Linked DNA regions of Homo sapiens. The protein of the gene in region 3 interacts with the protein of the main gene of each other region in a pairwise test. Each region holds a gene or a part of one and is shown on either strand. Other genes may lie near its edges.

Evidence for each region.
Region 1: the proteins of UBQLN1 (region 3) and GABPB1 interact in binary tests that used the Homo sapiens proteins (3 or more experiments, as listed by UniProt).
Region 2: the proteins of UBQLN1 (region 3) and CD99L2 interact in binary tests that used the Homo sapiens proteins (3 or more experiments, as listed by UniProt).
Region 4: the proteins of UBQLN1 (region 3) and HSD17B12 interact in binary tests that used the Homo sapiens proteins (3 or more experiments, as listed by UniProt).
Region 5: the proteins of UBQLN1 (region 3) and CALU interact in binary tests that used the Homo sapiens proteins (3 or more experiments, as listed by UniProt).
Region 6: the proteins of UBQLN1 (region 3) and MANBAL interact in binary tests that used the Homo sapiens proteins (3 or more experiments, as listed by UniProt).
Region 7: the proteins of UBQLN1 (region 3) and PCDH18 interact in binary tests that used the Homo sapiens proteins (3 or more experiments, as listed by UniProt).

What each region holds. Positions count from the first base shown.
Region 1 is NC_000015.10:50,306,435-50,310,633, reverse strand, and holds part of GABPB1 (GA-binding protein subunit beta-1 isoform beta 2), read left to right. Parts: intron 1-835; coding exon 836-943; intron 944-4,199.
Region 2 is NC_000023.11:150,891,698-150,895,896, reverse strand, and holds part of CD99L2 (CD99 antigen-like protein 2 isoform 1 precursor), read left to right. Parts: intron 1-4,199. UniProt on the Homo sapiens protein: Plays a role in a late step of leukocyte extravasation helping cells to overcome the endothelial basement membrane. Acts at the same site as, but independently of, PECAM1.
Region 3 is NC_000009.12:83,697,626-83,701,824, reverse strand, and holds part of UBQLN1 (ubiquilin-1), read left to right. Parts: intron 1-4,199. UniProt on the Homo sapiens protein: Plays an important role in the regulation of different protein degradation mechanisms and pathways including ubiquitin-proteasome system (UPS), autophagy and endoplasmic reticulum-associated protein degradation (ERAD) pathway.
Region 4 is NC_000011.10:43,809,440-43,813,638, forward strand, and holds part of HSD17B12 (very-long-chain 3-oxoacyl-CoA reductase), read left to right. Parts: intron 1-4,199. UniProt on the Homo sapiens protein: Catalyzes the second of the four reactions of the long-chain fatty acids elongation cycle. This endoplasmic reticulum-bound enzymatic process, allows the addition of two carbons to the chain of long- and very long-chain fatty acids/VLCFAs per cycle.
Region 5 is NC_000007.14:128,756,061-128,760,259, forward strand, and holds part of CALU (calumenin isoform a precursor), read left to right. Parts: intron 1-2,810; coding exon 2,811-2,977; intron 2,978-3,731; coding exon 3,732-3,792; intron 3,793-4,199. UniProt on the Homo sapiens protein: Involved in regulation of vitamin K-dependent carboxylation of multiple N-terminal glutamate residues. Seems to inhibit gamma-carboxylase GGCX. Binds 7 calcium ions with a low affinity.
Region 6 is NC_000020.11:37,313,249-37,318,053, forward strand, and holds the end of MANBAL (protein MANBAL), read left to right. Parts: intron 1-3,059; coding exon 3,060-3,167; 3' UTR 3,168-4,012; downstream 4,013-4,805.
Region 7 is NC_000004.12:137,525,436-137,529,634, reverse strand, and holds part of PCDH18 (protocadherin-18 isoform 1 precursor), read left to right. Parts: coding exon 1-33; intron 34-814; coding exon 815-903; intron 904-993; coding exon 994-1,157; intron 1,158-4,199. UniProt on the Homo sapiens protein: Potential calcium-dependent cell-adhesion protein.

The DNA.
Region 1 (4,199 bases), on a different chromosome or scaffold from region 3:
GTGAATTGTTTACTTTCTGCAAGAACTTAAATATACATTGCATGTAGGAGGGCAGAAAATTTGTTTTTTAAAATTTTGAACACATTTACTATTGCAAAAAAATTTATGCTAAGTTTAGTTTAATTTGCACCAACAACAGATGACAATATCTTGCACTTTATTTACTTTTATGAAAAATTTTATTGCTGCAAACCCTCCAGTAAAAACAATTAGTTGCCAGTTTTAAATTTTAGACCAGCTTGGCTGGGTGGGGTGGCTCATGCCTGTAATCCCATCACTTTGGGAGGCCAAGGCGGGCAGATCATTTGAGGTCAGGAGTTTGAGACCAGCCTGGCTAACATGGTGAAACCCTGTCTCTACTGAAAATAGAAAAATTAGCTGGGTGTGGTGGTGCATGCCTGTAGTCCAAGCTACTTGGGAGGCTGAGGCAGGAGAATCACATGAACCCAGGAGGCGGAGGTTGCAGTGAGCCAACATCGTGCCACTGCACTCCAGCCTGGGTGACAGGCCGAGACTCTGTGTCAAGAAAAAAATAAATAAATAAAAATTTAGGCCAGCTTTTCTCTGCTACTTACCTCTTCTATCTTTTACCAGATGTATTTGGAGAATTTAAACTACTTTTATTCTAAGTAAAAACTTAATGAGAAAGGAAAATGGATTCTAAAATCCAAATATAAATTGCTTTTGTATGATCTGTAATTTTAAATTAACCATAGCACACTCTTTTGAAGGGATAATTGAGAACTGACTTATTAATAAAGACAGGAAGGGAAAATGTCATGTCATAGTGTATAAATGGAGATTTTGATGTTCAGTTCATCTATGTTTTGTTTAGATGTCCCTGGTAGATTTGGGAAAGAAGCTTTTAGAAGCGGCACGAGCAGGTCAAGATGATGAAGTTCGTATTTTGATGGCAAATGGAGCTCCCTTTACTACAGACTGGGTAAAGAATGATTTTAATATTGTGTGTTCTTTTTCCTTCTCATTTTTGAGTTTTTGCAGAGAAAAATGTAGTCAGTATTGTGTTTATAAGTGGTAAAAAGTTATTATTTTTGCAAATGTGTTTATTATTTTAGAATTATAACTGTCCTAAAAGAAGTGGTTTATATTATTTTCTTTGATATTGGACAACCTTATCCAAATATTTCATCCACAAAGAGTTTTTCTTTCAAACTGTGGAGTGCATTAATGTGGCATGAATATAAAAATGTATCTGCTTGGGATTTAATTTAAAGGCCTTATAAATAGCACAGGTAGAATTTATAATTCAGAAAGATACTGATAAAGATTGGAGTTAGTGTTAATAGTCACTCCTAAAAGAAAAACAAGTTTATGTTTCAATTATTACTTGTAAAACTGTTGCAGACATGACGAAAGAGGAAGAAAGGAATGGGAATGAGATCTTGACAACTATGGAAAGAAGGTAGTTGTGGGGAAGGCAAAAAAAAATAACTCTTTAATTCTGGGGGCAAATAAAAAAGTATTGTCTTGTGGATATGGAATGCTAGGAATCTGAATTAACCTGCCCATTGGTAACAACTAAAAATTCCAGATTTTTGATTTTGCCGTTTTTGCCTTTCTTTCTCTTTTTACATTTTTCATGAAAAAACAAAATTTTTTATTATAGAAAATTTCAAATATATATCAACGATATCCCTGTAATACCCTTTACCCAACTTCAAAAATTATCAAATCATGATGAATATTGTTTCCTCTATAACTCTGTCTACTGTATTATTTTTTGTTCTGTATTATTTTAAAGCAAATTCCAGGGACCATATCATTTTATCCATAAATGTTTCTTTAAAGAATAAATAAATCTTTAAAGAATAAAGACTTTTTGATGAAATATTTTAAAGAAAGTCTTCTTAAGTACACTGCTGAATTAGAAAGAAAGAGATTATCAACCTGAAAAACTAAGTGAAGGCAAGAACCCAGAGAAATTTTACCCTAAAGAACATTAGGTGAACTCACACTTGTCTGGTGGTTTTTCCACCTCACTGGCTTGGGGTACTAAAGCTAAAGACCTGAGAGTGTTCATGGAGAGAAGTCTGATAGGAGATCTTATCTCATAATTCTGGAATCCCAAAGAGCTGCACCTTCAGTGTAGGGATAAAGCAGGAATACCCTGTCCCTCCTCCTGTCTGCTCCTGCCCTTGCCCCTGTTGCCGTGATGCTGCAAAGATAATAAGCTGATGTGAACCAAGACATCAAATGGAGAGAGGAAAACAATCTGATGGTGAGAATTTGGAATCACAAGGCATCCTTTTTACACACTTGCAGCCTGAACTCATAAATACTTGTGTAGTCTAAAAAACTGTAAACTGAGAAATGAATTTGAAGTGATCTTTGGACTAGGGATTACCCCAGGCTCTTGACAGAAGCAAATGAATATCTGCTCTGGAGGAACCTGCCTTCATCCCAGGCTTCATATCCACAAATGAAATTCAAAGGAAAGTGAGCAGTCAGAAATAACTAAACACATGAACACATGCCAATTTGGACAGTAATCTGCTAAAACAACTGTCAACAGAAGCAGACCTATAAGGACTTGAGATAAAATTTTAGTAACAGATTAGAAACAGCTAAAGAGAAAATTAGTAAACTGAAAGGTATGAAAAAAAAAATGATCCAGACTATGTCACAGATAAAAATAGATAGAAAATGTAAAAGAGATGTTAGGAATCATGAAGGATCATGTGAGAAAGTCTAACATCTGATCATAGATCCACAAAAAGAGCAAAAATAGGGATGAAATAATTCAAAGAGGTAATTGCTGAGAATTTTCCAGAACTGATGAAAGATGGCAGCCCACAGATTTGAGTAGCCTAACAAATCTCCAGCAGGATCAATTTAAAAACTAATCTATATCTAGATATATCATAGTGATGCTGTAGTACCTCAAGACAAAAAGATCTTTTTTTTTTTTTTTGAGATGGAGTCTCACACTGTTGCCTGGGCTGGAGTGCAATGGTTCAGTCTCGGCTCACTGCAACCTCCGCCTGCCGGGTTCAAGTGATTCTCCTGCCTCAGCCTCCCAAGTAGCTGAGATTACAGGCACCCACCACCAAGCCCAGCTAATGTTTTGTATTTTTAGTAGAGATGGGGTTTCAATATGTTGGCCAGCTGGTCTTGAACTCCTGACCCCGTGATCAGCCCGCCTCGGCCTCCCAAAGACAGAAAGATCTTAAGAAGGATTAGTATCCATAATACATAAGGAATTCCCATGGGTTAGCAATAAAAAGACAAGGCAATAGAAGACTGACTGGATATGGTGCTTTACCAAGGAGAAAGTTTGATCAATAAACATGAAAAGATACTCAACTACATTAAAATTGGGGCAAATGCAAAGTAAAATCATGAAATACTATTATATATCCACCAGATTAGCAAAAACAGTTGAGCAGTACCAAGGCTTGGTGAGGAGATGGTGGGAACTCTCAAATATTTTTGGTGGAAGTATGGAATTGGTATAATCGTTATGGAAGACAGTTTGGCAGCACATAGTAAATTTGGAGATGTGCATAGTATATGATGTAGCAGTTGGGCTTCTAAGACTATTCCCGAGAGAAGACTTGTTCATGTGCCTGAAACATATACAAGACTACTGTATTTAGCAGCAACATTATTCATAATAACACAAAAACTGGAAACAATCTAAATGTTCATCAGTAGATTGGTTAAATTAATTGTGGTTTACTCATTCAATGGAATATTATAGAACACAGAAAATTAGTAAGCTATACTTACAGTTATTAACATGGTGAATCTCATGAATACAGTGTCAAGCAAAAGAAGGCAAGTCACAGAGAAATACATGCAGTATAATTCTGTTTAAATAAAACTCAAAACAGGCAAAACCAAAGTATATTTTTTAGGGATAAGTGATACAAAGAAAACTAAGTAATGCTTGTCACAAAATTCAAAATATTAGTTACCTCTGGGGCTGGGGGAGGGGCTTGTGATCAGGGAGTGGCATGTGGGAAGATTTTTTTTTTTTTTTTTTTGAGACAGAGTTTCGCTCTGTTGCCCAGGCTGGAGTGCAGTGGCATGATCTTGGCTCACTGAAGCCTCTGCCTCCCGGGTTCAAGTGATTCTCCTGCCTCAGGCACCGAAGTAGCTGGGATAACAGGCGCCCACCCTCACACCCAGCTAATTTTTTATTTTTAGTAGATGAGGTTTCACCATGTTGGCCAGGC
Region 2 (4,199 bases), on a different chromosome or scaffold from region 3:
CAGCCACCACACCGGCTAACTTTTTGTATTTTTAGTACAGACAGAGTTTCACCATGTTAGCCAGGATGGTCTCTATCCCGTGACCTCATGATCCACCTGCCTCGGCCTCCCAAAGTGCTGGGATTACAGGTGTGAGCCACCGTGCCCAGCCAACAGTTTTCTGGATCTTTTGTCCAAAATAAGATAATACGATTTTTGCATTGGTGGTCTTCTCTGGGATCCTGGTAGTCTCAGAGCTGCTGCGTCAAAATGACAAACACAAAGCAAGTGCCTCAGTTAGGCACCAGTTGGCTCTTCTTGGGCCCTGGAGTGGCATTTTGGGTAGGCCTGCTGAGAGCCACTTTATTCTTGGTCCTGGTCCTCAGTAGTGGGATGTGGCTGAGTAACCCTGGCAGACCTCAGAAAGCACACAGAAGCAACTCTGCATAATCTGAGAAATCCTTCCAGGCTCTAGCAAGTAGCAAGTAGAGGCTGGCTTTAGGCTCCCAGGAGTTTAAAGGGCGGTTAACAAGTTATCTTTGTTCTAATTACAGAGGGCTTTTCAGTCTGCTGTGTATTTTACTAGTTCCAAAAAGTCCTCTGAGGACAGGTATGCTGCCTGTATGTGCCTCCAGAAATGGGAAGCTGTTCTTTTGAGCAGCAAGGAGAAGACTGTCAGTGATGTGGATGGGTAGTAATCTTAACAGGAGCTTCATTTCTGGAACACCTATATGCCAGGCCCTCTGCCTCGCCACATTACCCCGACCTGTTGGCACTGTGACCCATATCACCTCCTGATGTCCATAGTGGCCCTTTTACATAGAGTCTTACAGGTAACTGTTTGGTAACCCACTTCTCAGATGAAAAATATGGGGCCCAGAGAGGTTTAGGAACTTAACACTTAGCTGAATTGGATTTGAACTCAGGTTTACCTGCATAACCAGAGCAGAAGGCATGAACACAGATACCTTCAGGGATCATGCAGGTAATAGGAATGTGAGAAGTGGTCAAGAATAAGCATGATGAGGGGGCCGGGCGCAGTGGCTCATGCCTGTAATCTCAGCACTTTGGGAGGCTGAGGTGGCCAGATTACTTGAGCTCAGGAGTTCGAGACCAGCCTGGGTAACATAACAAGAGCCCCATCTCTACAAAAAATACAAAAATTAGCCAGGCGTGGTGGCATGCGCCTGTAGTCCCAGCTACTCGGGAGGCTGAGGTGGGAGGATTGCTTGAGCCTGGGAGGCAGAGGTTGCAATGAGCCAAGATCGCACCACTGCACTTCAGCCTGGGTGACAGAGTGAGACCCTGTCTTAAAACACACACACACACACACACACACACACACAAAACAAAAGAATAAAAGAATAAACTTGATGAGCATGTTGGCAAGCCACCAAGTGCCTGCTCCCTTAAAGAGAGGTCCAGCTTACACATGGAGTGTAGGCTTTAAAGCGTACCTGCCCAGTGCTGCTATGACTCTGTCCCATTTGCCTAACTGCTCGGTGCTACGGTTTCCTCATCTGTGAAATAGGGATAACAACACTATCTACCTCATGGGGTGGTTATTAGGATTAAATGAGTAGAAACGTATAAAGCATTTAGCACGGCACCTGGCTCCAAGTGAGCAAGACATTCCAAGCCACATTTTAAAAATATGTGATGCAAACCTTGAAAGGCATCATTTATACAAAATGTCCAGAGTTGGCAAATCCATAGAGACAGAAAGTAGATTAGTGGTTGCCAGCAGCTGGGATGAAGGGGGATGGGGAGTGTCTGCTTAATGGGCAAGGGGTTTCTGTTTGGGATGATGACAATGTTCTGGAACTAGATAGAGTTTATGATTGCAAAATATGTGAATGTACTAAAAACCATGAATTGTACACTTTAAAAAGGCTGAATTGTGGCCAGGCGCAGTGGCTCATGCCTGTAAACCCAGCTCGTTGGGAGGCTGAGGCGGGTGGATCAGCTGAGGTCAGGAGTTTGATACCAGCCTGGCCAACATGGTGAAACCCCGTCTCTACTAAAAATACAAAAATTAGCTGGGCATGGTGGTACACGCTTGTAGTCCCAGCTACTCGGGAGGCTAAAGCATGAGAATCTCTTGAATCCGGGAGGCAGAGGCTGCAGTAAGCTTAGATCATGCCACTGCACTCCAGTCTGGGCGACAGAGCGAGACTCTGTCTCAAAACAAAAAAAAGGGCTGAGTTGTATGGGAACTGCATCTTCATTTAAAAATTCACTATGTACTGACTTGTACACTTTAAAAGGGTGAATTGTATAGGAATTACATTGCCATTAAAAAAAATTCACTGTATAGTCCAAGCAGAATAAGTGTGAGAAGTGGCAACATGTTACCCCTGGATTGGGGTTGTTTTCAAGGTCCTTGAACTTGGTTCGGGGGGCGTAAGAGCAGAGTGGGCCCCGTGTGCTGGCAGTGCTGAGATGCCAGGCTGGGATCCAAGCAGAAGCCTCATGGGCTGACTTGGGGTATTGGGCTGAGCCAGATGGGCCACAAAGCATCTGCAGAGTTGGCCCAGAGATGCTTAACCCTGCCTGCCCGAGTTCAGGAGTGGTCCCTGGAACAGTGGCATGATAGGGAGAGGGAGAACTTCCCTTTCCTAGATGGCTCCAGGGTTGCCCTTATGGGCACTAGTCAGTTGCTGCGCTCGTCTGACAGAAAGTCTGGGGACTCTGCCTGTTAGTCTTACCTGCTTTGACTGGTTTTCAGCCTTTTCCTTGCTGTCATAGGTCACATCCCTATCCCTTCCATTATTTTGGACACAGGGTATCTCAAATGTGTTGTTTGTTTCTTTGTTTTTTTTTGAGATGGGAGTGCAATAGTGCGATCTCACTGCAACCTCCACCTCCCAGGTTCAAGCGATTCTCCTGCCTCAGCCTACTGAGTAGCTGGGATTACAGGAGTCCGCCATCACACCCGGCTAATTTTTTTGTATTTTTAGTAGAGACGGGGTTTCGCCATGTTGGCCAGGCTGGTCTCAAACTCCTGACCTCGGGTGTTCCACCTGCCTTGGCCTCCCAAAGTGCTGGGATTACAGGCGTGAACCACCGCGCCCAGCTTGTGTTTGTTTTTAAACACGTGCACAGAAACCATCCAGGAGTCAGCATCAGTAGGCATTGAGGAAGGGCCTGAAGTTGCCTTCAGTGGAGATGATGCTGATTAGGCCCATTTTGTCTGCTCAGAAGGGAGTGTTGGGAGGAGCTGGGTTTCATTCTTGTGAGTTTAGGAGAGATACCTTCCAGATACGTCGACTTTCCTGTTCTGTTCTTTTTTTTTTTTTTTTTTTTTTTTTTGAGACAGAGTCTCGCTCTGTCGCCCAGGTTGGAGTGCAGTGGCGCGATCTCGGCTCACTGCAAGCTCCGCCTCCCGGGTTCACGCCATTCTCCTGCCTCAGCCTCCCTAGTAGCTGGGACTACAGGTGCCTGTCACCACACCTGGCTAATTTTTTGTATTTGTAGTAGAGGCGAGGTTTCACCGTGTTAGCCAGGATGGTCTCAATCTCCTGACCTCGTGATCCGCCTGCCTCGGCCTCCCAAAGTGCTGGGATTACAGGCGTGAGCCACCGTGCCCGGCCTCCTGTTCTGTTCTTTTCCCCACCTGGTGTTTTGCTTTTTCTGCTGTGTGTTCACTCTTAGGTGGGTTTATTTATTTATTTATTTTTATTATTTTTTTCCTTCGAGATGGAGTTTCAGTCTTGTTGCCCAGGCTGGAGTGCAATGGCGCGATCTTGGCTCACTGCAACCTCTGCCTCCTGGGTTCAAGCAATTCTCCTGCCTCAGCCTCCCGAGTAGCTGGAACTACAGGCATGTGCCACCACACCCGGCTAATTTTTTGTATTTTTAGTAGAGATGGGGTTTCTCCATGTTGGTCAGGCTGGTCTCCAACTCTCGACCTCAGGTGATCCACCTGCCTCAGCCTCCCAAAGTGCTGGGATTACCCAGCTCCCAAAGTGAGCCACCACGCCTGGCTCACTCTTAGGTTTTGTACTTTGCATGTTATTCCTCTTCTGCTCTTGGGTGCCTGGGAGGACTGGCTCAAGGGGTTCCTGTCCCCCAATCCAGACTGGACCCTCCCTGAGGCTAGGTCCATGACTGGTGAATGTTGGTTTGCATGCAAAAGCTTAACGTCATCGTAGACACCTATCAAGAACGGGCTGGAAAATCTTTCATGTAGGCACATGTTCCACATGGAGTGGGGTGGG
Region 3 (4,199 bases):
TCTTGGGTGTAGATCTTGGAGTGGAAATTGCTGGGTCAAAGCTCTATGTTGAGCTTTATGAGGAGCTGCCAAATTATTTTCTAAGGTGTCTGTACCATTTTACATTTCCACTAGCAATGCATGAGGATTCCGATAACCACATTCTCGGTAATACTTATTACTGTCTTTGTGATTATAGCCATCTTACTGGCTGTGAAATGGTATCTTACTGTGATTATTTTGCTTTTTATTTTCATTATTATTTTTGCTGGGGGCACTCTGAGGAAAACTGGACAGCCTGCTAGACAAATTTGCTTTTTGTTATCTGAGCAGTAGTTCTCACTGTGGTTTGGGGAGTCCCCATACCCTGTTAAGGGTACCATGAGATGAAACTATTTTCATAGTAATTCTGAGATGTTATTTTTATTTTTCAGTCTAATTTTCTCAAAACTGGGCAGTGCACTTGGCTAGAGTCTTTAAGGTGTGGGATATGACAACAGATGTGAAAATCCAGCTGTCTTCTATTACAAGACTAAAGTGATTTCCAAAAATTTAAAATAATGCCACTCTTATCACTGAGAAAATAGTTATTTTTCATAAGGATGTTATTTTTATTAATATATAATGTATTATTTTTAAATGAATTTATTTTTAAAGGTTATTCAGTTTTAATTTGTAATATTATAAATATCAACAGCTATAACCTAAACAAGCAAAACTCTTTGGAGTTCTGAAGTTGTAAAATGGTGTCCTGAGAGCAAAAATTTCTGTGGTGGCGTATTTTATAGATTACGTACTTAAAATATCGGGTAGTGGCTCCAATAAGTTGCCATTACCTCTTGCCTAGAAACTGCAGTAGCCTACTGGTCAGTTGCCTGACTTCTATAACTCTCCCACCAGCCATTCCAAGAGTGATCTCTGAAAAACGTTAATCAGAGCATGCCACCCTCTGTGTAAAGCTAATGGCTCCCTGTTGGTCTTAGAATATATAATGGAGTAGCGAGGCCCTGTGTAATACGGTTCCATGCCCTCTCCATTTTTTGCAGATGCCTTCTTTCTTTGCTTGCTTGGCTGACTACATTGACCTTCTAGTTCCCTGACCTGTTAATACTTTTTTTCCTGCCTGAGGACTTCTGTACAGTTTGTTCTTGCTACCTAGAATGCAAGAACACTCTTTGCCCATTCCTTTTCCATCTTTAAATCTTAATGCAAAGGTCAGTTTCTCCAGGTAGTATCTATTTCTGATTGTCCAGACTGGATTGGGATCCCCTGTTGGATTTCTCACAGTAGCCTGTTTTTGATAAGAATTCATCACAACTAAAAATTGTATATTTATGTGATTCCTTCTCTTTAGAGAGGGGCTGTGATTGTTCACCATTGTGTTACCAGAGCCTAGGGCTCAATAAATTATTTACAGATGAATCTAGTCCATTATGTACAATAATACATATTCAGTAATAACTACTTATTGTTGAACCTTTACTGAGTGTAGTATGTACATAATCTGGTAGCTCCCAGTCCTTTTGTGGAAGCTTCCTCTTAAGCTGTTCCCCCCAGGTCACCACTCTCCAGGCACAACTCTTGACTGCTTCATGATGTTCACTCTTGCTTCTCTGCCTGGAACATTACTCTTCTAGAACCACCTTTCTTAGCTGGAGATTCTCATCTGAACCACAGAGCACAGAAAGTGATATGAATAGCTATCCATTTCTTTTCAAAGATGGTTCATAATGAATATAATTTTAGATGTATAGGAGAGAAGTTAATTCATTACATAGTGAGTGGTTTGTTGGTAAATGCTGGTTTATCAACCCGTTCTTCAGGAAAAACACTGATTTGTAGTGTTTGCTGGATTTCCATGATGTAAATATTCTCACTGTGGCAGATTTCAAGATACCGTTATTAAACTGGCTCACAAAATTTATGAAAATTTAAGAGCCATTGCTTATAATGGGTGCCTTAGGGCAGAGGCCAGCAAACTGGTAGTCGAAATCTATTGTGCCCATTTGCTTATGTGTTATCTATAGCTCCTTTCAGAATAGACCATGTGGCTGGTAGAGCCAAAAATATTTACTGTCTAGCCCGTAACAGAAAGTTTGCTTACCCTGGTATTAGGGCTTCCTGTTAATATATCTTGTTCATCAAAACACTTCTCATTGGAAATTTTTACCATGACTTATTTTTTATAGAAATACAATGTGAGCTGGGCTCAGTGGTTCATGCTTGTAATCCCAACACTTTGCGGGGCCAAGGTGGCAGGATTGCTTGAGCACCATGGCTCAGTGATCATGGCTCACTGCAGCCCCCACCTCCTGGAGTTCGAGACCAGCCTGTCTACAAAAAAATAAAAATTTAGCTAGGTGTGGTGGCACACACCTGTAGTCCCAGCTAGTCCAGCAAGGTTGAGCCCAGGAGTTTGGAGGTTACACTGAGCTATGATTGCACCGCAGCATTCCAGCTGTGGTGACAGAATGAGACTTGGTCTCTTAAAAACAAAAAACAGTATGAGCCACATATGTAATTTTCCTATTAGCCACTTTAATCAAAAGGAAGGACTGAAGTCAATTTTTCAATAGTGGTGACTCACACATAACAAAATTTATCATGTTAACCATTTTTAAGGGTTCACTTCAGTGACATTAAGTACATTCACATTGTTGTACAATTGTTACCACCATCCGTTTCCAGAACTCATCTTGCAAAACTGAAACCCTGGACCGTTTAAACAGTAACTCCCCATTTTCCCCATTCCCCCACCTCTAGCAACCACCATTCTTCTTTCTGTCTCTGAATTTGACTACTCTAGGTATTTCATATAAGTGGAATAAGACAGTGTTTGGCCTTTTGTGATTAACTTATTTCCCTTAGTATAACGTCCACAAGGTTCATTTATGTTGTAGCATGTGTCAGAATTTACTTTTTTTTTTTTTTTTGAGACAGGTCTCACTTTGTCACCCAGGCTGGAGTGCAGTGGCACAATCATGGCTTGCTGCAGCCTCCACCTCCTGAAGTTCAAGTGATCCTCCTGCCTTAGCCCCCCAAGTAGCTGGGACTGCAAGCTCACATCACCATGCTTGGCTACTTTGTATTTTTTTGTAGAGACAGGGTTTCACCATGTTGCCCAGGTTGGTCTCAAACTCCTGAGCTCAAGCGATCTGCCCCCTTGGTCTCCCAAAATGCTAGGATTATACAAGTGTGAGCCACCGCACCCAGCCAGAATTTACTGTGTATGACTGAATAATATTCCATTATATGTATGTACCACATTTTAAAAATCCATTGATCTGTTGCTGGTCGCTTGGGTTGCTTCCACCTTTTGGCTATTGTAATTTTAATATGCTTTATTTAACCCAGTATGTCTAAAATATTTTAAGGTGCAATTGATATAAAGACTATAAAATATCTTGCATTTTGAAATACTAAGTCTTTGAAATATATTTTGTAATTTACACTTAAGCATACCTCAGTTTGAAGTAGCCACATTTCAGGTGCTTAATAGCCATATGTAGCTAGTGACTGCTGAATTAGCACAGCTAATAAAGCTTTCAGGATGTGCTTCCACCTGCCTTTTCTCCTGTTTTCATTGCATTTCAGCCAGTTTGTATTGTCTCTTCCCCTACCCTCAAATATCACTGGCTCTTTCTTCCCCTTTTTGAACCTTTGCAAATGCTGTTAATGACAATGACATAATGGCCAATATTTATTGCAGGCATGATTTATAAGGCATGATGCATTATATTTTTTTAAAATGTCACATAACTTTATGATGAAAGCACTATTATTATCCTTTTTTTAAAAAATGAAGATGCTGGCCAGGCATGGTGGCTCATGCTGCTAATCCCGGCACTCTGGGAGGCCGAGGCGGGTGGATCACATGAGGTCAGGAGTTTGAGACCAGCCTGACCAACATGGAGAAACCCCGTCTCTACTAAAGATACAAGATTTGCCAGGTGTGGTGGTGCATGCCTGTAATCCCCAGCTACTCGGAAGGCTGAGGCGGGAGAATCGCTTGAACCTGGGAGGTGGAGGTTGCAGTGAGCTGAATCGTGCCATCGCACTCCAGCCTGTGGGATAAGAGTGAGACTTCGTCTCAAAAAAAAAAAAAAAAAAAAGGGTACAAAAAATAGCCGCGTGTGGTGGTGCATGCCTGTAGTCCCAGCTACTTGGGAAGCTGAGGTGGAAGAATCTCTTGAATCTGCGAGGCAGAGGTTGCAGTGAGC
Region 4 (4,199 bases), on a different chromosome or scaffold from region 3:
TTTGGTATATACACTGTTACTAAAGTATACATTTTAAAAATTCAGTTTATTTTGAAATATAGTGAGGTAGCAGCATTTTTTAAAATCTCCTTTTATTGGCCAGGCGTGATGGCTCACACCTGTAATCCCAGCACTTTGGGAGGCCAAGGCAGGCGGATCACCTGAGGTCAGGAGTTCAAGACCAGCCTGACCAACATGGAGAAACCCCGTCTCTACTAAAACTACAAAAAATTAGCCGGTCGTGGTGGCGCATGCCTGTAATCCCAGCTACTCAGTAGGCTGAGGCAGGAGAATCGCTTGAACCCAGGAGACGGATTGCAGTGAGCTGAGATCGAGCCATTGCACTCCAGCCTGGGCAACATGAGCGAAATTCTGTCTCAAAATAAGTAAATAAATAAGCAAATAAATAAATAAGATGTCTTTTTATTAACTCTAAGTGCTGGAACTGGATTAGCATTTATAACCACAAATGTTAGTGAAATATAAACTTTTTCTCCTTTGATACAATGAGAAGGAAACAGGAGGGGTTACTTTGCATTATTTGATGTATGTCGGGAAGCCCGGCCATTAGGCAACATATTTTTAAACCACCTTAATTTCCTATATCTCTGATTAATCTGGAAAAAGAAACAGGTTGAAGGTGATCTGTAGGGGGTTACCCGTATCTGTTAGAATTGTTTGTTCAAATGGATTTTTAATTTCTAGTAATTTATTGTTGTTTGCTCCTCTCTCACGCCTAACCCAGATACCAAAAATCTAATTTTCTGATGACATCATTATATCTCTATAGCAGCTGGCTTTGAGAGAGGATTCTAAGTTCAGTGAGATCAGCAGCAAACGAACTTAGAAGAAACAGAAATCTTGTAAATATTCTTTTTTTAAGAGCATAAAATTTGGAAATGATTTTAAAGCAGTATAATTTAGAAATTATATATATATATATATATATATATATATATATATAAAATTCAGAATTATTCCGTGGATTTTCTGTGTCTTTAAAATGCAACACATAATGATATTAGTGTTTTCTGAGGTTCTGGATGGGGGCCGAGGAGAGCGTAGCTAAGCATGGCCTATGTCAGTTCTTCTCTGCAAGGATCAACTCTTAAGAGGATGGCTCCTCTGCCCTCCACCACCTTTTCTTTCCACTTCCTTTGGCATTATTCTTGGTCTGTTTTCACCTCTGTTCTCTGCCTGCCTCATCTCTTTTATTGAGCGCTTCCCAGTCTTAGACCTCTAGTCAGAAACCAATGGGAAAGATTTTGTTACTGTCCAGCACCCTACAGTGACTGGGATGGTGGTGGGAATTCCATGATGACATAGATATCTGTTGTTTCCTGAGAGACATCATGTGTTGTTACACAATAAAAAGGTTTTTCACTGAAAAAAATGTTTAAATCTGTCTCTAGTGCCTCACTTCAAGAATTCAAGAAAACTCACTAATAAACATGTTTAATGCTAATTTAAGATGCGACCATTTAGAAGGGATCTTCAACTATCTGAATAATGTTGGAGCAACATGTGCCATTGTTTGGTTTGGCGAATCCTATAATGAATCCTGTAATATGTAAAGATGGCATTGCGTGCACCCATTCTTAATGAGATTATATTATAATGGGAGTATTTCCATCCTTCACTCCTACTCAAAGCCTGTTCTTTCTCTTCCTTTTGCAATTCCCTGAAAGCTTTCTGCCTGCTGTTAGGTTATTGCTGCCACCTGACGTCTCAAAATAAAATTGCCGTGGGTTTGCTTTTCCAAAAGATTCGCACTATTCTGCATTTTATGGAAATAACTATTTGAGAGCAACAGTTTTTTCTCTATACTCCTAAATAAGAGCATTCTGAAGTGATTACTTATGGTGGGGAGATTATGGGTATCATTCATTCCACAAGCAAAAGGTGGAACTAATAGTACAGGAGGGAATGTAGGAGTCCTAATCCCTAGAATAGGACAAATCGCCATTGTGACCTTGGTGTGTACTTCACCTCATAAAATTGGACTCAGTGCTCTTAACAGCCTTATTCCAGCTTTAACATTGTTTTATTGTGTGTACTTTTATTTATGAAAACATAGCCCTTCTCCGTGATACTATTTACTTTTTTGGACTAAAGTTCTCAGTGTTGAACAGGTTTTCTCTCTTTTTTTTAACAGATACATAATATTTCTACATATTTATAGGATACATGTGATATTTTATTACATGCATAGGATGTGTAATGATCATGTCAGGGTGGCTGAAGTATCTGTCACTTTGAGTATCATTTCTATGTGTTGGGAACATTAAAAGACCTCTCTTCTAGCCATTTTGAAATATACAATACATTGTTGTTAACTATAGTCACCCTACTCTGCTATTGAACATTAGAACTTATTCCTTCTATCTAACTATATGTACCCACTAACCATCCTCTCTTCATCCCTCACCCACCCACACACACCTGCCCCACCTTCTGGTATCTATTATTCTACTCTCTACCTCCATGAGACCAACTTTTTTAGCTCCTACATATGAATGAGAACATGCAATATTTGTCTTTCTGTGCCTGGCTTATCTCACTTAACACAGTGACCTCCAGTTCCATCCATGTTGCTATAAATTACAGGATTTTATTCTTTTCATGGCCAAATAGTATTTTATTGTGTATATATACTAAATTTTTCTTTATCTATTTATTTGTTGATGGACACTTAAGTCAATTCCTTATCTTTGCTATTGTGAATGATGCTGCAATAAACACGGGGGTGCAGGTATCTATTTGATATACTGATTTATTTTCCTTTGGATAAATACTAGTAGTGGGATTGTTGGATCATGTGATAGTTCTATTTTTAATATTTTGAGAAACCTCCATACTGTTTTCCACAGTGGCTATACTAATTTACATTCCCACCAACAGTGGATAAGAATTCTGCTTTCTCTGCGTCCTTGCCAGCATCTGTTATTTTTTGGCTTTTTAATAACAGCTACTCTAACTGGGGTAAGATGATATCTCATTGTCATTTTGATTCAGATTTCTGTGATGATTGGTGATGAGCATTTTTTCATTTATCTGCTGGCCATTTGTATGTCTTCTTTTGAGAAATATCTATCCATATCCTCAGCCCACTTTTTAATAAGTTTTCTTGTTTTTTAAACTATTCAGTTGTTTGAGTTCTTTGTATATTCTAGATATTAGTCTCTTGTCAGATGGATAGTTTGCAAATATATTCTTCCATTCAACAGGTAGTCTCTTCACTCTGTTGATTATTTCCTTTGCTGTGCAGATGCTTTTTGGTTGAATATGTTTTCTTATAGAGCTATGTTAAATAGATGTTCACATTTTCATTGTGTGAATAAATAGCTTTGATAGCTTTCCTTTGCTCAATTATCAGAGACACAGCTGAAGACTCTCTATTGTTTGTTTTTGTTTTTGTTTGAGACAGAGTCTCCCTCTGTCACCCATGCTGGAGTGCAGTGGCGTGATCTCGGCTCACTGCAACCTTCGCCTCCTGGGTTCAAGCAATTCTCCTACCTCAGCCTCCCGAGTAGCTGGGACTACAGGCACGTGCCATCGTGCCTGGCTAATTTTTTGTATTTTTAGTAGAGATGGGGTTTCACCGTGTTAGCCAGGATGATCTAGATCTCCTGACCTCGTGATCCGCCTGCCTCAGTCTCCCAAAGTGCTGGGATTACAGGCGTGAGCCACCACGCCTGGCAACTCTCTATTGTTAATACAGTCATAACCAGAATAACACTTCTCTGCTTGCTTAGTTATTCAGGGACTTCCTTTGCTTAACTTTGTACTTATAGTACATGTAAAGATTACAAAGTCAACTGTGCTGCTTGCAAAGTTCCTAGATTTTTTTTAAAAAAAATGAAATCTGGATTTTAAAAGATTTATAATTACACTGTTCAATTTTCCTTTGCATTTTGAAATATAGCATTAATATTCCCATAGGCTAGAGGGAAATCTGAAGAAAGTTTTCTTGATATGAAGAGTGAAGGGAGATAGTTCACTGTACTTCATGAAATTTTTTTTAATTCTGATGAATATTACAACTTGGCAAAGCCTTTCCTGGAAGATTCTGTTATCTTAAACTGATATAAAGAATATTTTGTTTATGTGCAATATTTTAACAGATATTTTGGGTTTTGCTGTTTCTTTTAGTCATATTCTAAATTATTCATCCTTTGTAATTCTGTAGGTGGTTAAAG
Region 5 (4,199 bases), on a different chromosome or scaffold from region 3:
ACCAAACATATCCTTCACCCAATTAAGAACACATGTATTAAACAGTCAGCACAGATGGAGAGGCATCCTGCTTCTTGCTCTGGCTGAGACCCAACACCTTCCTGATTTATTTGGAATTAATGATAAATACAAAGCAAAGAGTAGGCTATTGGTGATCTAAACAAAATGGTGTGTAAATAAATCTCAGCTCCGACCTAGGCACTCACTTGCTGCCCAGAATGATTCTTCGGTGCTGTGTATGATTATGTGCATAAAAATCTGTTGAGAGCTCTGTTGCCTCACAAGGCAGATGATTCAACGTAATGGGTATTTCTGCTGCCTGAGACTGCATAAGCTGAAGCACTGGCTGGGAAGCAATGTCTTTATAAGGCATCTTTCCCCAGAGGCATGAGGGTGGACAGCACTGAGGGGGTCATGAGTCGGCTTAGAGAAGTGAGGAGTTTTTGTTACTGTGTGTTCTTGATTCAATTTGGAGTTCAGGTATAAATCATCATAGCTCTTAGTTAAAATCTGTCTCAATGAATCCGCTATCCATGAGAGAAAGGTTAACACTGTCTCTGCCACAAGGAAAATATGAAATACTGAGATCTACCCTGCCTATAGCAAAACTAGATCAAGAGCCTACCTAAAGCTGTATACAGGCCAGCTAGGGCCAAAACTGGTGCTTAGGATAAATACAGCATTCCAAGCAGAGCTATAGGAAAATAGGTTTTGTCATTAAAAATAAAGTTTTGGACAGGCACAGTGGCTTATGCCTATAATCCTAGCATTTTGGGAGGCCGAGGCAGAAAGGTTGCTTGAGTCCGGGAATTCGCGACCAGCCAGGGCAACAAAGCCAGACCCCGTCTTTACAAAAAAAATATTAAAAATTAGCCAGGAGTGGTAATACTTGTCAGTAGTCCTAGCTACTTGGGAGGCCGAAGCAGGAGGATTGCTTGAGCCCCAGAGTCCAAGACTGCATTGAGCTATGATTGCATTGCACTCCAGCCTGGGCCACACAGAACAAGGACCTGACTATAAATTAAAAAAAAAAAAAATTGTATCTTCCTGTTTCCCTCCTTATATATATATGTGCATGTTGCTATTAGGCTATTTGAGTCCAGTCACCATTTTTACCTTTTACCCCAAGGAGGGGAGGAGAGCACTTATGTAAGAATCTAGTCTTAAAGTATAAGTTGTCTTGTTATGTTTCTTATTTATGTTACATAGTCCTGAAACCTTGTTTAGAAGAGACACTTTAGTATCTGAGAAAGGCTTGTTTGCCTTACGTTCTCCATCTCAACCTATTATGGCTTTGAGTGTGTGTGTGTGTGTGTGTGTGTGTGTGTGTGTACACAGGATCCCAAAGCCTTATGACTCGTTAAGCTGTCTGACTGAATTTTTGACACTCAATAAAAAATGAAGCTTCAAAATGCTCAACTCTCAAAATAGTACAGTAGTTTTGTTTTTGTTTCTTTAAACTGTGCTTAAAGTATGGAAAGACTGAACAATCTCAAAGGTCAGCAGTAATGATGTTATTCTTAAAGGGGCCCTGTGGGTCTTTTTTATAAAAGCAGTGTCATATCCTTTTTATGTAATCAATATGTTGCAGGAACAATAATTTCTTACCATTAATGTGGTGTCTTTTACTTTTTAAAATATCTTCATGTCTGTTATCTTAATTTGGTTTATACAGGAACGCAGATTGAAAAAGAATTTTATTTTCTGCAGTTAACGCCACATTTTTTCAGCTTAAAAAACTAAATTTCACTTTTCTATATTCTTATATAGAGACTAGATAACTGCTGCTTGTGTAGCTCGATGTCATAACAGATGGGTAGTTCCAAATTCAATTTGGTTGTAATCTAAGGGTTTTTTTTTTTGTATACCTTTGTCAAGTTATTATTGACATAAAGTGAACTGTATGTATTTAAGTGCATAATTGATGAGTTTTGACGTATGTATTTACCAGTGAAACCACCACTGCAATCACGATAATGAGCATATCCATTACCCCCCCAACATTTCCTCATGTCCCTTGGTAATCCTTCTCATTCTCGCCATTCCCCCGTCCCTAGGCAATCACTCATCTGTTTTCTGTGACTCTAAGTTAGTTTGCATTTTCTAGAATTTTACGTAAATGGGGATGAACAATACCTGTCACTCTTGGTAGATTTCTGCGTTGACTGAAAAAAAACAGAATGTGACCTTCAAAGTGGTGGCATTCTATTGCTTGAATCCAAGTGTCCATTATGTGAGGTAGAAGGCCTTTGATTTCTATCTTTTTAATGAGATCCTAATGTTTAATAAAAGTAGCAATAACTGACATTTGTTGAAAGCCAACTATGTGCCAGGCATTGTTCTAAGCACTTAGATATATTTTCTCATTTAAACCTTACAACAATCCTATGAAGCCGGCACCATTGCTAGCTCCATTTTACAGATAAAAGAGACCAAGACACAGGCCAAACAGCTAGAAAATGGTAGAGTTCAAACTCAGGCAGTATGGGACTTGAGAGCCACCACTGCCTTCCAGATGTAACTAGAAAATTCAAGCCTTCTAGTAGCCTTAATACCAATAGTGAAGCATAACAGTGAGTTACATAGTTCAGGAGCCAGAGTTCCATGTGAACTTGGAGCTGACTCTGAGATCTGATGCCTGGAGCTGTAGCCCAAAACTAAATGTCTTTGTACTGCTGCAGTTTTACCTGTGTCATCAATTATTTCTTCCTTGCATGGTTTTATCTTTATTGGAAATTGATTTCCCACCCCACACATTTTCATGTTTTCTGAAAGTCTTTTAAGATTTGACCTAAATTTTTGTTTTCTAGATGATCCAGATCCTGATGATGGATTTAACTATAAACAGATGATGGTTAGAGATGAGCGGAGGTTTAAAATGGCAGACAAGGATGGAGACCTCATTGCCACCAAGGAGGAGTTCACAGCTTTCCTGCACCCTGAGGAGTATGACTACATGAAAGATATAGTAGTACAGGTGGGTGAGATGAAGGATTCTGAACAGGGACTCAGTTTCTCTTTTTGTGGCTTATTCTGTCTTTCCCCTTTAGCCTTATATAGCATATCTTATATATATATATGCTATATAGCATATCACTGTATATGCTATATAAGTATTGGCCAGATTCAGAATCCAAGGTCTGTCACTGTTTTTCTGTGACCTTGATCAAGGTGCCTTGGGCATTCTGTTTAGTATGATAATACCTTCTGTCATATAATGTATTTTGCCATTTCATTGGTAGCTTCATATTGTAAGAATGGGGGGAAATCCCATTATTTAAAATATCCCATGACCAATAGTCAGACATTGAGTAATAACAGTGATACTAAAGAACTCTCACAGAAGGCAGTTACTGACAACATAGACTATCTATAGCTAAACACATAATCACTGGTCACATCTCCTGTTAGTGTGACTTTAGCATGACTAAGGCTACCAGGTAGATCATCATGGGCTTGATGGGATAGTTTGTCATTAAGCAGTGTCAGTGTTCTGTCAGGAAGACTCAGTTATTTTAGATTGAAGCATAGGAAATTGCTCATGTTTTACCATTTCTTGGCTAGAAATGGTTTTAACCATACAGACACACATGCATACATACATACATACATACATACATGTACAAGTGTGTTTAATGAATAATAAATGTTTACCTAAACTAGATACTTTACTTTCTTCTGGCAAATTCAGAGACCAACTTAATAGTCTCTTCTTATTCTTTCCTGTTTAGGAAACAATGGAAGATATAGATAAGAATGCTGATGGTTTCATTGATCTAGAAGAGTATATTGGTAAGTCTCTGCTTTTAGTGTTTTTCTTAGAAAAGCTGAGAAGCTTTGAAAGGTGTATTTGCTGGCTGGGCACAGTGGCTCATGCCTGTAATCCCAACACTGGGAGGCCGAGGCGGGCAGATCACCTGAGGTCAGGAGTCCAAGTCCAGCCTGGCCAACATGGGGAAACCCCGTCTCTACTAAAAATACAAAAAAATTAGTTGGGTGTGGTGGCGGGCGCCTGTAATCCCAGCTACTCAGGAGGCTGAGGCAGAAGAATCGCTTGAACCCAGGAGGCGGAGGTTGCAGTGAGCCGAGAACACGCCATTGCACTCCAGCCTGGGCAACAAGAGTGAAACTGTCTCAAAAAAAGAAAGAAAGAAAGATGTATTTGCCCATAGAAACAATTTACTCCAAGGGTCAATTCT
Region 6 (4,805 bases), on a different chromosome or scaffold from region 3:
TAGCCCCAGCTACTCGGGAGGCTGAGGCAGGAGAATGGCATGAACCCAGGAGGCGGAACTTGCAATGAGCCGAGATCGAGCCACTGCACTCCAGCCTGGGCGACAGAGCGAGACTCCGTCTCAAAAAAAAACAAAGAAAACATGTAACTATGGGAAAATAATAGTGGCATTATGGGCTGGGCGCAGTGGCTCACGCCTGTAATCCCAGCACTGTGGGAGGCTGAGGCGGGTGGATCACTGGAGGTTAGGAGTTTGAGACCAGCTTGGCCAACATGATAAAACCCCATCTCTACTAAAAATATAAAAAATTAGCTGTGCGTGGTGGCGGGTGCCTGTAATTCTAGCTACTCAGGAGGCTGAGGCAGGAGAATCACTTGAACCTGGAAGGCGGAGGTTGCAATGAGCTAATATCGAGCCACTGCACTCCAGCCTGGGCAAAAGAGTGAGACCTTGTCTTAAAAAGAATGGTGGCATTATAAGGTTCCTGGGTGCCTAGGGGCCCGAGGAGGGAGGAGGGGCTGCCCCCAGCTGGAAGGAGGAGCAGGGAAGGAAGGCTAGACAGTGAGTAGGAGTGTATTCATGGACAGGGCCAAACCATGGGAGCAGTTTGCCGGGTGGCCAAGGAAACAGGTATTCCTGTTGATGAAGGTGACCAGCGGAAGCTCTGGGGCCTGACTCAGTGTGAGGGATGAAGAGGAGCCCATGTGAGGCTGGAGAGGTGGCCTTTCTTAGATGCCATTCCAGAGACAGCCACTGGAAGCTTTAAGGTGGAAGGTGCAGTGGTCAGACCTGCACTTTAGAATAGTTCCTTTCGTGGGTGCATGAGGAATGGACAGAGACAGCAGGCACTTTGCTTAGCTGTGGGCGGAACTGAAGGGGGAATTGGATGCTGGAGAGAGTAGCAGAATCAAGAGGTAGAGGGGGTCATGTCAGCAGGACATGGTGACCCACTGGACAGTGGGGAGCAGAGAGAGGGTGAGGTTACCGGGTCTCTGGTTGCTCCACCAGTGGGAGGAGGGCCGGGCCTTCTGGGTCTGGGACAGTTAAGTTGGAGGTGCCTTGGAGATGCCAGTCCTGATTGTCTGGCAGACAGCTGGATCAAGGGAGAGGTCTGGGAGGTGCCAGAATGGTTGAGGCTCTAGAGACAGGGCCTGTGGAGTGAGGGAGGCACTGGGGCGGCAACTGGGTCTCACTGTCCCTGTGGTCTCTGAACTGAGCCCCACTGAAACTGGAGGAGCCCCCAGCCTTGAGCTCAGAAGGCAGACTCCTTCCTAGAGATCCAGGCAGGCCTTGCAAATTTTGTTTTGTTTTGTTTTGGCCAAGTTACATAAACAGAGTAGGGGGACCTTCAGATCATTTTGATTTTTGGTGGGAGGAGGCTCAGCAGGCCGAAGGAATCCAGCACTGCAGTGAGAGGCCTGGCTGGGGAGGGGAAGCCCTCCAGTTATCTTGGGACAATCACTCCTTGGGGGCCTGGGACCTGGCTGGCTCTTCATATCTGGTTATCTCGCCTGGCTGATGGGAGACGATGTTGGCCGATAGGAGGGAGCTGACAGGCCTCTGGATCAGATCCGAGGCAGGGACTGCCCTTCCCTGCATGGGCCCTCCTCTTCTGTAGGGTGGGCTGAGGCTTGGGCCACGGGCCAATGGGGCAAGCAGGGAAGGTCAGGGAGTAAAGTGAGCTGGAAGCCGGGGTTGGGAAATGAAACACAGAGGGGTATTTTTCTCATCTGGAAGTGTCCCCCCTCCCAGGAGTCTTAGTCTGCTTCTTATTTTCCCATTTCTCAATAAAGAACATGGGCACTGAGAAACATTTCCCAATCATAGTGCTGGGGGCGGCAGGGTGTGGGGGCCACGGTCGGCACCTGAAAAGGGGCAGCGCCTCCTCAGCCCCTCACTGCCATGAGGGAATGCAGGGCCATTGTCACCGGATGGTTAGTTTCAAGAGAATCTAGGAATCCAGATTTCATGGGAAATCTCCCAATTGGCTTAAATTTTTAAATAAACACTGCCGGCCAGATGAAGTCTGTGGCCTGGACGAGGCCTGTGGGCTGTGGTTGGCGTTCTCTGGGCTAGCCCGGCCTCTCTGACGTCCGTCCTTTCTGGCCACGGCACACTGCAAGTTATCACCCAGAGGAGGAGAGGACACTAGATAGGAGCACACTGAGCCTATTCCAGATACTTCTCTGACATGAGCCTGAGTGGCTGGGCCAAGCTGTGTCCCTTCCCTGGAGTCTCCCTTCCTTATCAGCACAATGAACGCCAGGGCTAGATCTGTGGGTTTCAACCTTTCGTTCCTTAGCAGCAGAACTTTGTTTCATTTCAATCTTACAAGGGACAAATCACAGTGTATGAAATAGATTGAAAATCAGAGCTGCTCCTGTCGCCCAGGGAGTCTGGAATTCTGCCCCGAGGCTGCCTCTGCCCTCCCCCACAGAGGCACCTCTGACAGGCTCCGCAGAACACAGTGTGGGACTGCCCACCTGCCGGCTGGCCCTCTGCACCCCTCCCAGTCCTGGCATTCTGTGGGTTGAATGGGAGGACAAGAATGGCAGCCAGAGGAGGGCAAGCCACAGTGGGTCTGCCCCATAGCCAGCTCCTCGCCCACATTTTGTCCAGTCCCTGGCACGAGGTGATCGGCCAGTCACTGGGTGCAGCTGGCACTTCCTGGGTGCTTTCCACGTAGTTTTGCCTCCTCACATCAGCCCTGTAAGGCGGGTGTGGCTATTTCCATTTCACAGGTGAGTAAACCAAGACACAGAAAGGGGAAGTGAGTTTCACACAAGGTCAGTTGGCTGGAAAGGGAAGGATCCCAGGTTCTACCTGGGCGTCTGAGACCCCACAAGCTGCTCCCTCCCCGTGGGGCTTCCTTTATTCTTCACTGAGAGCCACGATGCTCCGGGGCAGTCCCACATCCGTGTGGGTGGTAGGTCCCGGGAATGACAGTTTCCATCTCTTGTGTTTCTGTGGCATGCTTCTTTGCTTTCAGATGTGATCTCCTTTTGCTGGCGTCAGGCTTGATCCATCTAAGCAGGACTCTCCTTTTTATCACCTCACAGGAGGCTGAACCGTCTGAGCCCAGAAGTGCTGAGGTGACGAGGAAGCCCAAGGCTGCTGTTCCTTCTGTGAACAAGAGGCCCAAGAAAGAGACTAAGAAGAAGCGGTAGAAGAGGAGGCCTGAGGAGCTGGGCGGGCAGGGAGAGGGTCTTGGGGACAGCCCTCCTGGGAATCTACATTGTGTTCCCCCGCATTCCAGGCTCAGGGTCTGAGGAGGCTGTGACGCCCTATGACCGCAGAGATCTAGACAGTCGTAACAGTCCCCAGGCTCCAGCTGGGCAATCCACCACTTCCTCTTCCTTCTGCTTCTGTGACGGTTTAGAGTCAAGGGGGCTGAAACACACTGTGAGCATAGACTGTATTAGGTTTGTTCAGAAGCCGGGTCAGCTCACAGAGTCACATTTTCTTGCTTAGTCATGTGTCCCTCCTTGAGTTGCCCCCTCCTTGTGGGTTTACACTACATTTGGGAGTCATTGTCTAATGCTGACAAGCACACCCTCTCCCATTATTTGTGCACTACAGATCTCCTCCTGATCAGTCACCTTTGTTGCTGCTGTGTAGACAGAGCCAGGCCTCACCTGTTTGTTTAGGCCAAGATGCCATGGACATGCAGCGTTAGTGATCCCACTAGCTGTGACAGCCAGGCCCAGAAAATGCCTGGCGTGAGAGCCAGCAGACAGCCAGGCCAGGGTAGGCAGTGCCTGCTTCTGCTCCATCAGGTGCAGGGGATTTGGCTGAAGGCGTGCATATTTCCTGGGCACAAACTTCCTGAGCCTCTGAAATGGGAGGCTCGTCAATTTCAGACCAACCTCTTTTCAACCCATCATAGCACGTTCAAGGTGTGCCTTTTACTTCTACCTGTACATCCCCCATCCCTTCAATTCTTTCATTCCCTGACCAGTGAGAGGGTTCCTGGGGGAAGTATGGTGAATAAACTGACATGCATGCTTCAGAACCTGCCTGTGTTGTCTTTTGCTGAGGGAGAGGGGAAGCCTAGGGCCCTGCCCCGGGGATGAGGGAAAGGCTTGACCCCCAGAGAAGTGGGACAGTGGGGGTGAGGATGGCCAGAATAGGATGGCTTCGGTAAGAGCAGTTCTGCAGGCTGAGCCATTCTGGAAGAAGTTTTCAGGAAGGATCCGGCTAAGTGCTTCGTGTGGCCCTTAGTCACTGGAAACACTTGTGAATGGCCGTGGGTGTGTTAGAGTTTCCACTGGGTCCAGGCCCCACTCATTCCCCAGGTTCCTTCTGAGGAAGATGCTGCTTGTCTTCAAAGTGGCTTGAGAAAAACCAAGTGCAATACAGTAAAAGGCCTTACGTGGCATTGGCCAGGTCTAGTCACTTGCCCTGAATCAGCTGCTGAGGAAAAGCCCTGACCTCTTGGTAACTCGGATTTGCCCAGCTCATTTACAGCCTGCCAGACAGCTTTCCCAAATGCCAGGACTGATGAGGATCTTAAGAGATGAGCGACTATCATCTCTGTTTTGGAGATGGGAAACTGAAGTCCAGACTACTTTGAGAATGTCCAAGCTGGGATTTAGACCCAGCCCACGGCACATTCCTTGGTATTTAACAGGTATTTAGCGAGTGTTGGTAGGCACAGTGCTATGAGGGTCCTGCTCTGCTGCAGAGGGGCTTGGCAAGATCTCCCAGCACTTCAGGTTTCAGGAGAGGAAGTCCAGGGGCTGGGGATTGTGCATAATGAAGGGCTAGATACTGGCTTGAGAAGGAGCTTCTGCGGATTGTTTCTG
Region 7 (4,199 bases), on a different chromosome or scaffold from region 3:
TTAGAACTCACCCACGCCACTCCTGCTGTTGAGGTAAGATCATAAACCGCATCAATTCATTGCAATGTTAGGTGTTAGTGTTCAGGAATTGTGTTTACTAGTTCTTAAATGTTTTCATTAATAAGTAACAATACTAATACTGTGCAAATTAAGTAGGATACAAGTTACATTGTGAATATGTAGCAAAGATGCACACTTTAGCATACTGTTTTTAGTTTTCCTTAAGTAAATAACTTCATATAATATGTGTAATATTGAAAAATAAATGTGAAGGTCACAAAGGACTATGTAATTAGAGTCCCCTTGCTTCCCAGATTAAAATAATGGGAAGCCAAAAAGTAGAGACTTGCTTTATTTTCAAGGTTATAGTCTTTACTGAACAAATAAAAAAACTGAGGCCTTCAGACTTCTATTTCAATGCATGCTATGTTTGTCCAAGTTTGGAAGATTTCCTGACATTTTTTAAACTACATGCATTGCAGTGTTGTATTTTACAGTATTTTCCATGTATTTTTACAGGTGGTCACTTTGTCTGAATTATAAAGAAAATAAATCAGTTATTTGAAAGGGAGTCTTCTTTCACAAAGTAAAAGTCAGTTGTATTAGGTCATCCAAATCTCTCTGAGATATATTTTAGTTATAGTTGGTAGCTGGCTGCGTGGTCCGCCACAGTCCAGCATTTGCAAATCTTTTAAATAGAGAGAATATATTCAATTACTTAGTTGAAATAGCAAGCAACTGTTTTTCTTGCTTAAAGATTGTGAGTGTTTGGAGGCTTGTTTCCGGGAATCAGTTCTGTCTATTTGGTTTCCAGCAGGTCTCTCAGCTTCTTTCAATGCTTCACCAGGGGCAATATCAGCCAAGACCAAGTTTTCGAGGAAACAAATATTCCAGGAGCTACAGGTATGAATTATTCTTGTGTTACCTATTAAGTTTCAACATAAATGCTGAAGAGTAAAAACTGTAATTTTTTTTTGTGATTTATCTTTCCAGATATGCCCTTCAAGACATGGACAAATTTAGCTTGAAAGACAGTGGCCGTGGTGACAGTGAGGCAGGAGACAGTGATTATGATTTGGGGCGAGATTCTCCAATAGATAGGCTGTTGGGTGAAGGATTCAGCGACCTGTTTCTCACAGATGGAAGAATTCCAGCAGGTAAGAGGGTAGTGATAGAAAATCTTTATTTTCAGGTCTACCGTGACACCAGTAAAATGAAAAATTTCTCTCATGCTTATATTTCTTCTTTATTTGTCCCTTGCACTAAAGTATTTATAATATGTTTTATAGTATGTTCATCACTGTTTAGTAATGAACAGAAACTGAAACATTTTAACACTGTTTTCTTAAATTTCATTAAGCGGTTGGAAGAGAACGAGTAAGCATGACAGCTTCATAGGACAAGAAGAAAGGGGTGGGGAAAAATCAAAAAAACAAACACTTTCCCCCTCTTTCCACCTCATCCGATACAGCCATAGAACACGGTTGTGTAACTCTTTGCAAAATTATTGGGTGGTGGTTTTTATTCAGTTAAACTGTTTTGGCGCAGAGTGGTGAACCGGACTGTAATTTGGAGGATGCATTTCCTGTGATGGGCACCAACTCACAAAATCAGAGACTAAAATACACTGGAAATTGTACACTTCAAGCATTAAAAATAGGAGAAGGAATGCATCTTTGTAGGTGGTAAGCACAGAATATTTTTGCCAACATTTCATTTTGCTATAGTAGAAGAGGCACAGGGACCCAAGAGTGGAATTTTTAAGTACACAGCTAGATAGAAGAGATGCTATTAAGTTTCGAACCACGTTTTCCTTGGAGTTCCTTCCCTCTAATTCTGCAATAGGAACTCTCTGAACTGACTAAATACTGATTATATTATCCTAGCAGCCCCACTACTAAAGACTGCAATATTAAATCAACCTTAGGAATACGTGTGTTCTTTTGGCTACCTATATTTCCAAGTTTCACTGAATGTGGATCATTGACTGCCATTTGATATATGAAAGATAGAACAACACAATATCACCCATCTTAGTTTCATCGCACCTCTATTTTTGAATACAGATAAGTAAGAGAGTTTAGGAAATAAACATGAGGGAGCCTCAGACAGCTACAGGAATTCAAGAAAATCAATATAGCTGACATTCCGTATCAGCAGGTTCCACATCCATAGATTCAACCAACTGTTAATTGAAAGTATTTGGATTAAACAATAAAAAATAGCAATACAACAATAAAAAACAATACAAATAAAAAACAATACAGTATAACAACTATTTACATAGCATTTACATTTATTAGGTATTTTTAGTAACCTAGAGAAGATTTAAAGTATTTGGGAGGATGTGCGTAGGCTGTATATAACTGCCATACCACTTTATATAAGCAACCCAATTTTGATATCCACAGGGGGCCTGGACCAATCCCCTTTGGATACCAAAGGACCACTGTGAATAGAAACTCGAGCACTCATAAGTGAAGTAGTGATGGCAGTAGCCAGAGCGGTATTAATATTAGGAATAGTAGTAGCAATAGTAGTTACCAACTATGCCCCCAGGTTTACTCCAGGCTCATGCAGAGTTTGATACCTGCACTGCCTCTCCTAAGGCTTTGGCAGGAATTAGTAGTAGTGACAGTAGTAACAGGCTTCTATTTTTTTTTTTTTTTTTTTTTTAAGATTTGGAAACTGAAAGTTATAAAGGTTAGAAAATGCATCTCAAATCAGGCAGTTTGTACATGGGAGAGTGAGATTTGGACCAATCCCTGCACTCTTAAACACTAATCTATCAAGTATGTGAAGTAACAGGTTTTTGTTGTGGTAGTAATTGTTTTTAAGTAGAGTGTCCTCATTGTTCTTATGTTCTAAAGACTTATGACATACCCCATAACTATTAAATGTTGATTATTTAATTCTGTTATCACAGTAATAGATGCTATAATATATCTCACAGGATGAACGTATGGGGGGGACTTCGAGAGACAATAAGGCATGCCGTGTACCTGAGAGCCTGTTTGCACAGTCATGGTGTCTGTTTTTTGTTTTTGTTTTTAATGCATAGACTTTCTTGACCAATTTGAAGAGAAATCTCTGAAAATTTAGTGGAATATATTTAGAATCAGACACTTTGCTCAAAGAGAATCAGTTTTCTTATTCGTACTTGTGTAATAAAGGAGTTGGCTAAACTACAATTCTGTGATCCTGACAGAACCCTAATTTTGAGTATTAATCCTTGATTTTAAATAATGTAATTTCATTTCATTAAACAGAAAAGTAACATAGTGGGCATGACATCAATATTGTATTATATATTTTTAGATTTGTATAATGTTTATTCATTGAAATTTAAATTTATCAGCATACTTAACTGAATAGCTGCTCTAATTACATAACCTTGGTATTTTGGGGATTAAATGATCCTAAAGTCCCTTTTAATTCTGAAATTGTAGAAATCTAATAGCTAATTATAAAGTTTTTTTTAGGTCAAAGTTCTTTTACTTTTTCTTATATTTTCTAAGTTGCCACCTCCACGTAAGTTTGTGGCAAGAAAGTTTTCTAGCACTTGGAGTAAATAATAATAATAATAATTACAATAATAATAATAGATGTTAAGGAATAAAGACACTGGCGAAACAATAGGTAGACATAGATAAACTGTAGAAAACTGAATTGTGTTTAGTGAGTGACGTTAAGCTTCATCAGTATCACATTTCTTTTCAAAATTAGGAGTTCACCTTTATATCATCATTAATAATTCCACTTAACATGAGACAATTTTTAAAAAAAAATCTCATATTTGCACAATCACACTTAACCATGGGTGTGGCTGGAGAGTTATTTTGCTTGTGCATAACATTGTGTTACAACAAAATACATTATAGTAGATACAATTCTGCCTTACTAGGTACCTGCCTCCATCTGAGGTGTGGTCAAAGCTATCCTGGAGGTATCGAGCACCAGGAAGTCACCAATGGTCCGCAAAGTATATTCATGTTTGGCTACTGTAGACTGCAATATGCATACTGTGTATCTATACAAAGATAACTATCCCTTATTTATGAGTATAATTTTGATGACACATATTCCAATTTATTATTTACCCCAGCAACTTCTGGAGGCATAATAGGGTGTAAAACTTGTGTTTTGTAAATTTATATTCCCAGAAAATATCCCAAGTAGAGAAAAATGTAAGTCCACAT